Regions from separate parts of the Homo sapiens genome. Here region 2 is linked to region 1. The links come from fine-mapping of genetic effects on gene expression. A gene starts in region 1. The other region holds a variant in brackets. All regions are shown on one strand. Distances are from middle to middle.

Region 1 (5,369 bases):
GTGTGTTCTGGGTGGCCATCTGGCCCCAGCACTCAAACTCGAATTCGGCCACGAGCAGCTCGGTGGCCCCCCTGTCTCGGAGTGAGGCGGAAAAGCACAGGGGGGCGTCTTCGAACTTGGCGTTGTCCTAAACGACCTGTGCGGCGAATCAGTTGGGGGGAGCTGTAGAATGGTGAATTGGTGCCTGGAAGGCCTTCCAGAAGTGGGACTCGATTCTGGTTCCTCCGTCTGCTAGGCTGTATTATGGGAGGTGATGCACCCAGGAAGTTTTCGGCGTGGTAACCACTTGTGGGGCCAGAAGTCTGGGATGACGCGTGAACAAAGGTCGGCTCCATCTCCATCAGCTCATCTAGGTCATCATCTTGGGCCTCATCCAGTGGCTCCTCCTCCACCTCACCATAGGTCTCCTCAGTCCCTGGATCCTGCTGTGGCTCTCCTTCTGGTTTCTGGCCCCCATCCTCATCTTCATCTTCTTCATCCTTACTCTCTCCTTCCTCCTCATTCTTGTTCCTTATCTCCTCCTCCTCCTCTTTCTGTTTCATTTCCTCTTCCTCCTCCTCCTCCTTCTCTTCCTTCTTCTTCATTTCTTCCTCCTTCTTCATCTCCTCCTCCTCCTTCTCCTTCATCTCTTGCTGAAAAGCCCTCATGCGCTTCCTCTGGTCCTTGGAGTGAAGCCTGTGCCTGCGTGCCTCTTGGTCTTCATCTTCACTGTAGTACTCTTCATCTTCACTTTCTTCCTCATTGGGACTCGGAGCAAAAGGGAAGATGATATTTCGAACTCCAGGGAGCGGGATAGGCTTGGGAACGCGCACTTTTCTTTCTATCTCCACACATTCGAGAATCAGCTCATCCAGGTCGGCCATTTCTGTTGACCATAAGAGCTCTTTGCGGAAGAATTCCGACAGGCCTTTGAGGAATTGGTTTTGGAGGCGGCAGTCATCCCAAGACAAGAATTGGGCCAGGAACTGAAAAGCATCTGCATAGCTGCCGAGGGTACAGTGGCCCTGCTTGAGCTTGCGAATGGCCTTTTTAGCCACACGTGGGGGGATGGGGCCACAGAATTCCTTACGGATTTCATCCAGGAAGCGCGGGAAGTTGGCATGCAAGGGGCTTCCTTCCTGGGTGACCGAGATGGCCCAGTCCTTGGCTTCGCCAGTGAAAAAGGAGATCAGAAAGGCCACCCGCTCGGCGCCCCCGGGGAAATGAACCTCATGGTCGGCTATGAAGGTCTCTAGCTGCATCAGGAATTCAGCCAGGTAGACTGGGTCTCCTGAAAAGGGCTCTATCTCAGGCCGCTCCAGCGGTGCCAGAGGGGGTTGCGGGGGCGGTTCCTTTGACGCGGGCGGAGGCAGCGCCGGCGGGGGCGGGATGGGCAGCAGAGGGGGGTCAGCGGGCCCGTCGGGGGTGCTGCGATCCTGGATCACGTTAATCAAAAGATCATCCGAGATACAGTCGGGCTCCGCGCGTGGGGGAGGCCGGCACAAGAAGGGCAGTTCTCCCCCGGGAATGACTTCGATCTCACTGAGCGCGAACTCCAAGTTCTCCTCCGCAAGGACGGGCACTATGGGTACTGGCCAGCGGATGTAGCTGGAGACATTGCCCCGCAAGGAATTAACCTCGGCCAGGGCTCTCCCGAGCTGGAGGCCCAAATTGGCATTCTCCCCGCGAAGGGCATTTAATTCTTCGCGCAGGGCCACATTCGCCATGCGGAGGCTGTTGAGATTTCCTGACGCCTCAGACATCTCGACAAGCCCAGGGGCCCTGGGGCTCCGTGGTGGGGAAAGGGGAACTGGAACTACGGGCGGCCGGAGGAGGCCGAAATGCGGCGGCGGGGCTCGGGAGGGACCGAAGTGCGGCAGCGGGGCACGGGCCAGGCCGGGCCACACCCACCGGGGCGAGCTCGGAGGGCGGCGCTCTGGGCGGAGGGCCCGGCGGCTCGGCCCAGGGCGCGTTACCTCGTCGCCGGGGCCGGAGAGGGCGGGCGGAGGCACGGGGCCCGGAGGCGCCAGGCGGAGGATGCGGGCGACACGGTGGCGGCGGCGACCGCGCGACCGGGCGGGCGGGCGGGCAGGGGCGAGCGGAGCGGGAGGGAGCGGACTGCGGCAGGATCTGTCGAGGAAAAATCTTGCGGCCGGCGATTCCCCGCCTTTTAAGCGCAGCCTCGCACTCCCCCCACCCCACGCAGGGGCGGGCCTTGGGGAACCGCGGGCGCCCACTGGCCGCCGCGCGCCGCTCCCCTCCAGCTCGCCTGCGCCTCTCACTGACTCTCTCCTTCCCTAGCTGCAGCTAACTCGGGTCGGGAAAATGCGACAGCGACTGCCCACTCGAGGTCGTCATGGCGACAGCCAGTGAACGTGTTCCTCTCCTCGGGCAGGCCCCCGAGTGTAGAGGAGCTGCTTCGGGAGGCGCAGCTCAATCTCCAGAGCCTGTTGCAAGGTACCGAGAGGGAGGGGGGCTGCGGCCGGAGCCCAGAAGCGAGATGCGCAGCGGCAGGAGGGAGGCAAAGAAGAAAGAGGACAGGGACCAGCAAGATAAAGACAGAGAGTTTAAAAACAATCGACAAAGCAGTTTCCAGCTTTCACCTTTCAGCCTAATGATTCTGAAAGAGGCTATTTCCAGGGCTGTTTCCCCCCATCCCCAGCCCCTTTTTTCAGCTCAGTAGCCCATGGGGAAACAAGGACAGAGACTGAGGCAGGGCCATAAGTTATGCCATTCACCGAGAGCTGGGTGGGAGACTCCCACAATGTGGGCCTACATTCCCTCCAGCCCCCCTCTTGCCACATCGCCCATGCCTTTGGGATCCTGGCACCAGAAGACAAAGGGGGCATCTGCAGGATCTCCCACTCTGGGCTTCACTCACTCTGCTCTTGCAATAACCCCTGGATAGCTACTGCCTCACCAAAGTAAGCCCAATACACAGCACCCAGAGGTCACCTATTTTGTCCCCCCTAACCAAGCCTGAGCTTCTCGATGTAAAGAATCACATCTTGCTACCCTTAGGTTTCCAGAAGCACCTGGCACAAGGCTGGATTCCCTCCCCACCTGCCAAGAGGTGCTCAGTGGATGTTGAGCATGAAAAGAGGTCTTGTCAGCACTCCTTTATCTATACTAATAAAGGTTAACTCTAATGGCGAATAGAAAACTGCTGATGGGCCACCAACAGGATGACAGCCATAACCCCCACCCCCTACCAGGGCAGTGGTGACCTTGGAAAAGCAAGATGCCAAGGGACACCATGAGCCTTGTGTTCAGATAACAAAGGACTTGCCACACAGAAAAAGAGTCGATGTGCTCTGTGTTGCTACCATGGCAGAATTAGGACCAGTGGGTGGAAACCCAGAAGGAGGCACATTCCACCTCCAGATAAGGAAGAACTTTCTGACACACCTGACAGCCCCAACTGTCCGTGGAAGAAATGAGCTGCCTTGGGAGGGAGGGAGCTCCCCTTCCCTGCAGGTGTGTGCGCTGAGGCTGAAGAAACACCTAGAAGGGCTGCTGAGGAGGGAGTCTGGGCACAGAATGAGGCGTTGGACCAAAGAACCCCAAGAGCAACCCCAAATCTCTGTGATTCTGAGTCTTTGTTCAGTGTACATACAGCATGAATGTCCCTTCTCTACTCTCACTTTCTTCATGTATTCTCATCAAATTCATCACTTCAATCAACCCTATTCAAATCTTGTGCATCCTTACTCACTGATGATGCCGCTGAACTTCTGCCTCTTTTATGCTGTTACCTCCTCCTTCCCTCTCCTTCACCTTAGCCCTCCTAGACCTGACATCACTTACAGCGGGACTAAGGTGCAGGGAACACGGCCCACAAAGGCTCAAGTAAAAGTTCTTGACATCCAAGAAAGAACTCCAGATTGGACTTCCTGGTGTAAATCTCTTCTTGCTTCACACAGGTCATTTCCTTGGTAGGGTCGCAGAAAACCTTAAGAGCTGCAGGGCTTCAAAGAGAGGAACTTGCAGTCCAAAGTAGCAAAAGGTGTCTGCATTCTGAGCCTCTTTTCGTAACTGAGCACTCAAGGTGGGGATCATTGAGATAAGGGCTTGGTCCCCAAACCACCACAGCATGAATTTATTGACTTTCTCTTCTCCTCGATCCTCATGGTCCTGGGAAGCAAGCACTTTTCCATTTCCAAATCCAGTGGCTCAAACACCTGGAAATAGCCTAAAGAAAATGCAAGTCAGGCCTGGCAGCTAGAGCAGGAGTCCTGGCTCATGGCCCTTCCCCGGCCCAGCGCTCGGCCATGGCACCCTAGAGTGTGTGTCTCCACTGTGCTATTTTTCAGAAGAATATGAGGAACAGTACTCGGAGGCCAGACTTGTGGGGCAGACCTTCCGCTCTTCTGATGAGGCCACTAAGCCCACCCCCAACCCAAGGCCCCAGTCTGCCAGGCGTCTGGAGTTTATATTGATGGTGAGTTGCCTCATCCCCCACCTGGGAGAGCCAGCATGCACCCACTGACAAGAGACCTCCAGCTGCTTACTTTACCCACTGGAAGCTGCTCAGCCCTGCTCACCAGCAGAGCTACCCTGAGGCCCCACTGGGATAGGCCCTGCACAGCAGGTGCCTGGCCTGGTGGCCTGTCCACGCTTTCCTGCCTCCCAGACGAAGCCTCCAACTACCCAGCCTAAACAGCCACCCTATGGGCACTGGCTCATTGCCAGGCAGGAATACACCCTTTCCATCACCTTCTCTCCCAACAGCCTACAAAACGGCAGCTGAGCGAGGATGAGACTACCACCCAGGGTGTGAGGGCCCCCGAGGCCTCCCTGAGCCTGTCTACCACAGCCGACAAGCAAACTGCCTGGAATAGCCTTTTCCCTCTGCCCATCCTAGAGGAGAAGCGGTGGCCTCAGCTTTGCTCCACGCAGTCTGACATTGTGCCCATCAACATCTCTGGTAGAGTTGCTTAGCACCGCCTTTGTCTTCTTCCCTTCATGCCTCTACAGACCATCCTCTTTGATGCACTGGGTATTGGGGGAGGGAAGTGAGACTTTCTTTGCTACCGGCTCACCTTGCGCTGTCACGGTCATGGCTCTTGCCAGGGAACGGAGGCATGCAGAAGAGGGGGCGCTGGCTGCTCTTTCTTCACCCCCTCCTGGCACTGCCACCCTAACTGAGACCATTTGATAGCAAGCAAAATTTTCTTAACAGAAAGCTCCAAAGCCTTATGAACTTCTGTGCTCTTCAGAGCACTTATGGAAACTTAAAGTTTGTGAGTTCTGTTTGGGTCAGGGCAAGACAACTTCTTGTGCCCAGAGCTGGGTTTGGAGTACACTGATAAGAGTCGGAGCAGGAGAGTGGGGTTTGGAGTGCTGGTGGTAACAAGGGAGGAGTACACCTGGGCACAGACCAAAGGCCT
Region 2 (5,369 bases), 32 kb before region 1:
TTGTCCTCTCTTCTGTGTAGCCCTCTCTTAACATGAATGTGGCAAAATTGCTAGGAAGAAATGGTAGGATGTATTTCCACTAGGTAGGTCTCTTTCTCCACAGCGGCCATCTTTGATTATTGTGTCTGGAATCGAGCAGTACCCAACCAACATGGTGCCCTTCCTCAGGCTCTTCCTTGGCGGGAAGACAGAGGCAGCAGTTGAGCAAGGGGAGCCAACAGAAGTGGAATGGCTCCTCATTCATAGACCCTTGTGGGTTTTGAAGGAGAGAGGAAAGAGAAGGTTTGGAAAGAATAGGACAGAAAGGGAGGAATAAGAAAGAGGAAGTTGGCCGGGCGCGGTGGCTCACGCCTGTAATCCCAGCACTTTGGGAAGCCGAGACGGGTGGATCACGAGGTCAGGAGACCGAGACCATCCTGGCTAACACGGTGAAACCCCGTCTCTACTAAAAATACAAAAAAATTAGCCGGGCGTGGTGGCGGGCGCCTGTAGTCCCAGCTACTCAGCTGGCTGAGGCAGGAGAATGGCGTGAACCCGGGAGACGGAGCTTGCAGTGAGCGAAGATTGCGCCACTGCACCCCAGCCTGGGTGACAGAGCAAGACTCCGTCTCAAAAAAAAAAAAAAAAGAAAGAGAGAAGAAGTTGAAAGGGGTGTTTACAAGTGGAGGAATAGAAATAAAGCTATGAATTGAATAATAGAAACTCTGATTTTTAAAATTTTATTTTATTTATTTTTTATTTTAATAGTTTTATGTTACGTAAACCATTATATGTTATTTTTAAATATATGAAAATAAATATATTTAATGGTTTGTTATTGTAAAATGACACGTTTGTTGTTAAAATTTCAAATAGTACTGGAGAGTTTCAAGTGAAACATACATGTCAAAATCATCTAGAATAACAGTTACTTGTGTGTCCTTGCAAACTTATTCCGTGCATATATAAGCATCTGTGTGCTTTTGATACACAAATGAGATCATACAATACATACTGGCCCATTCCTTGCCCATTTTTTTCAACTTACCAATAACTCTGCAGTTTTCTAGTTTCTACTCAAAGAGATATCCTTCATTCTTCTTAATGGCTGCATATCATCCCCTTGTGTAGATGCACCATGATGTGTGGAACCCATCCCTTGTTAATGGACATTTAGGTAAAATAGAAAGTCTAGCACCACACTATCCAATAGAAATATAATGTGGGCCACAAATGCCAGCCACTTATGGAATTTTGAATTTTGTCTTAGTAGCTACATTCCCCTCCCCAGCTGATTTGAAATGCCACCTTTATTATATCCTAAATGCTCATATATACATAAGTTTGTTTTGAACTATTTTATTTCATTCATCTATTTGCCAATTTTGGCACCAGTATCCCCTTGTGTAGGAATTTTTTTTTTTTTTTTTTTTTTGAGACGGAGTCTCACTCTGTCACCCAGGCTGGAGTGCAGTGGTGCATTCTCGGCTCACTGCAACCTCTGCCTCCCGGGTTCAAGCAATTCTCCTGCCTCAGCCTCCTGAGTAGCTGGGATTACAGGCCCCCACCACCACACCTGGCTAATTTTTTATTTGTATTTTTAGTAGAGATGGGATTTCACCATATTGGTCAGGCTGGTCTCAAACTCCTGACCGCATGATCCACCCACCTCAGCCTCCCAAAGTGCTGGGATTGCAGGCGTGAGCCGCCACGCCGGCCACCAGTATCCCCATTTCTAGTAGCCACATTTAAAAAGTAAAAAGAAAAAGGTGAAATTAATTTTAATAATATATTTAATTTACTCCAATATATCAAAAATAGTGTCTTACAATGTAATCAAATATTAAAAATTATTAATGGGATACTTTACATTCTTTGTTTCATATTCAGTCTTTGAAATCTGGTGTATGTTTTACACATCCAGCACATTTCAGTTCAGACTGCCAATTTCAAGAGCTTAAGAGCCACATGTGGCTTCTGGCTACCGTATTGAACAGTGGAAGTTGAGCAGGCAGAGAGATTCAAAATGTCACCTGAGCTGTGTGTCTCTGTGGTTGGTAGGAATGGATTAGAAGGTCAGACATTGAGGACAAAATCCTCAACTTCACCACTCAAGGCAACTCATGAAGCTTCTCAGGGTCTTGGTTTGTGGACTCCAATAAATTCAACGTATGCTGGTTGAGTGCAGACCAGAACAGCCGAGCCAAGTACAGTCAGGCCTCGCTTCACAATGGGGATACGCTACGAGAGAAATGCGTCATTAGGTGATTTCCTCATTGTGCAAACATCATAGAGTGTACTTACACAGACCTAGATAGTGTAGCCTGCTGCACACCTAGGCTATATGGTACAGCCTATGGCTCCAAGGCTACAAACCCATACAGCACGTGACTGTGCTGAATACTACAGGCAGTTGTAACACGATGGTACTTATCTGTGTATCTAAACATAACTAAACCTAGAAAAGATAGAGCAAAACTATGGTATCATCTAATGGGGCCACTGTCATATATGCAGTTGTCATATATGCAGTCCATTAAGCAGGGGTCCTCAACCCCTGGGCCATGGACCCGTACCAGTCCATGACCTGTTAAGAACTGGGTCACACAGCAGGAGGTGAGTGGCAGGCGGGCGAGCATTACCGCCTGAGCTCCACCTCCTGTCAGATCAGCAGC[G/A]GCATTAGATTCTCATAGGAGCAGGAACCCTACTGTGAGCTGTGCATGTGAGGGATCTCAATTACTTGCTCCTTATAAGAATCTAACTAATGCCTGATGATCTGAGGTGGAACAGTTTCATCCTGAATCCATGCCCCCACCCAAGTCCGTGGAGAAATTGTCTTCCACAAAACCAGTCCCTAGTGCCAAAAAGGTTGGGGACTGCTGTGTTAACTTACATGCCATTATGTGGCATATTGCTGTACAAATGGCCCTGGCCTTTCCACAAGCCGTAGCATGGCCACAGAGATATAGAAAGAGCCTGAGTGCTCACGAGGTGATTATCTGAGGTCTGTCACAGGTTCCCCTTTCTTTGCTTTCAGAGGCATCTCTGTTCACAGCGTCTCATCACACTCAAAACCCAATGCCTGTTTCCTTTTTTTTTTTTTTTTCAAAAGCAGAGTGTGTGGCAACGGGGCTCTGAGGAAATCCCTACCACTGTGGTTGGGGAGGGTGTGGTGTGAAGAACCCACATTGTGGCTTACTCAACTGTGAGATCTTAACTCTGTGGCCCCAGAGCCACTGTGCTCCTGGGCGGCAGTGGTGACAGCCATGGCGGCACAGCTTAGAGCCTGGAATGGTAAGCATGGGCTCAATTGCATCCTGCAAGAAGACTCGCATCAGGGTTTGAGCTCGGGGTTTGGTGTCTGGGTGGGTGTCGGCAGAATGGGAGGAGGCAGGTGGCTGGAGAGCACTGGGGACAGGTGGAGCAGCCAGTTTTGCCCTGGCCTGAGTCAGGCCAGGTTTGGGAAGCATTTGGACTCCACAGCAGGCTTGGGTGCTCGGCCCCTGGATTGACAGGAAGCTGAGAAATGTGATTATCTCCCACGGGACAACATGCTGTCCCCAAACAAAGGTGGCGGTCGCATGCCCACTGCCTAAGTTCTAAACGAGCCCTCCCCCAGCCTTTTCTCCCCAAGCTGGCCAGCTACAAGACCCAACCCCATGGTGGAGCCGAGGGTTCAGAGCAGCTAGGCACAGGAGAAAGGAATTTCCTCCTGTGGCTGCCTGGGAGGGAGCTCTTTTTCATCGGCCCCACCTGCCAGCTTCCCCATTACCAGGCCGAGGAGTGGAACACCAGCATTCCTTTTCCCTTCCTACTGCTGCCTCCTCCAGCCCTGCAGCCTAGAAACTCTCAGTGGTATCAGACTCCTGAAGCACCAGGCAACAGCCCAGCTTCTTTCTGCTTGGTCACACAAGCTGTGGCCTCCCAAATCATGCCTGGGCTAGGAAGACAGAGCAGTGTCACAGGAAATCTAAGTCCCATGCACATGGTGATCTCACCCCAGCCTCTACTGCTTCAGCCCCCTCCTGAGGCTGGCCAAAGCGTAGAAGCCCTGCTGATTAAGCCTCTTCCCTGAATGTTGGCAGCCTAGGCTCTGCACTAACTTAGCACCTAGTGCAGAGCCTGTCACGTGCATGGGAGCTACCCAGTAGCATTCTCTTGGACGGATAAATGCATGGGTGAATTAACATGCTTTGGATATTGTCTTTGTTGTACCTCCTCAGGGCTCCCAAAGCCTTAAAACTAGAACTTGTCACCTCATCACTTTAGAACCTTCTATTTGCAGGCATCTATGCACCTGCTGATCTCTCCCACTAAGAAAAGGTGACAAGAGAAACCAGCCAGGGGATTCCTGAGGGTAGTCTAGGAGTCTCGAAGCCTTGCAGTGGTCTTCCAGGCTGAATCATCCTACCTCGAGAACCAAGAGCATGAGAGTTGGCATCAGACAGACTTAGTTCAAGTCTCAACCCTGCTATTTCCTGTATATATAATCTTAGTCAAAAGTCATTTCACCACTCTTAAGATTTAGTACTCTACTCTGTAAAATGGGGCTAAAAATACCTACCCAGCATTATGGTGAGGAATAAATGAGAAAATGTGTTAGGTTGAATCCTATGAAACTGTCCAAAGCATTTAAATGCCAGCAAATTTGTATGGTTCAACCTAATATATAAAGTAGCCTTTATAAACTATAAAGTATAATAAATAGCCCTATATAAGTATTCATTATTCTTAACAGATATAATTTGTAAGTCACAGAATATTGTTTCTTGCAGTATTAGTAATCCCTTTCATCAGAATACAGGTCAAACTAACAGAAGAAGCCACTTATCTGACAATCGTGGGCTGCAGGCATTTCCTGGAGCATTTTGGCCTGGGAAATAGGGAGCAGGTATTTTTAGGAAACTAGACTGGTTCATGGAAAGCAATGGAGGTGAACACCAGGGTGACTCGTGACAGCTCCTACCTGGAAATGATTAACCCGCAAAAGCACAGTAGGAGTTGGCACATTCTCTTGCCCCAGATGGGAGTACCCACTCCCTAGCTCCAGTAGCAAAGCAGAGGCTGCCTAGGACAAACATTCCTTCCCGGGGGACAGAGCCAAAGGGTCCTAGGCCAGCAGACATCTGGAGGAAACTAAAAACAGCTTCTTGCCAACTTTTCCCTCCCTAGTGGCAGCTATCAAGCCCAGGTAGCTCCTCTTGACCTAGCAAAGTCCCACGCCTGGGAAAGCTTGGATTTGGAACTGATAGCTGCAGTGGCCACAGTGGAGGGAGTGGGGGAAGGTTCTCACCATATTATGCATCGCTCCCTCAATCCCAATCCTAGATGTAAAGGTCACTGGGATTTCAGGCCAGAGGGGACTGGGAAGAGTCCAGAGAAGTGCCCAC

Direction of the effects. Positions count from the first base shown, and alleles are read on the strand shown. Sizes are in standard deviations (SD) of each study's normalised expression.
In carriers of allele G in region 2, the expression in gastroesophageal junction of the gene that starts at base 2,117 in region 1 tends to be lower than with A alone (small effect, 0.23 SD a copy in GTEx).

What was found. PIP is the estimated chance that this variant, and not a neighbour inherited with it, causes the effect.
Region 2: its variant is fine-mapped to the expression of RTL5 in gastroesophageal junction (GTEx, PIP above 0.99).

What each region holds. Positions count from the first base shown.
Region 1 is chrX:72,129,799-72,135,167 of GRCh38, forward strand. RTL5 (retrotransposon Gag like 5) reads right to left here and starts at 2,117. Exons shown (of 1, transcript NM_001405151.1): 1 at 1-2,117. The coding sequence starts at 1,742. The coding sequence ends at 33. NHSL2 (NHS like 2) reads left to right here. Exons shown (of 8, transcript NM_001013627.3): 2 at 2,281-2,436; 3 at 4,293-4,420; 4 at 4,711-4,906. RefSeq lists silencers at 1,908-1,977, 2,138-2,197.
Region 2 is chrX:72,097,970-72,103,338 of GRCh38, forward strand. All of the region lies in intron 1 of NHSL2 (NHS like 2), which reads left to right. Among named protein-coding and RNA genes, the nearest start is that of RTL5, 31 kb to the right of the region's middle. RefSeq lists a silencer at 3,148-3,267. The variant G/A (reference allele first, on the strand shown) is at 2,655.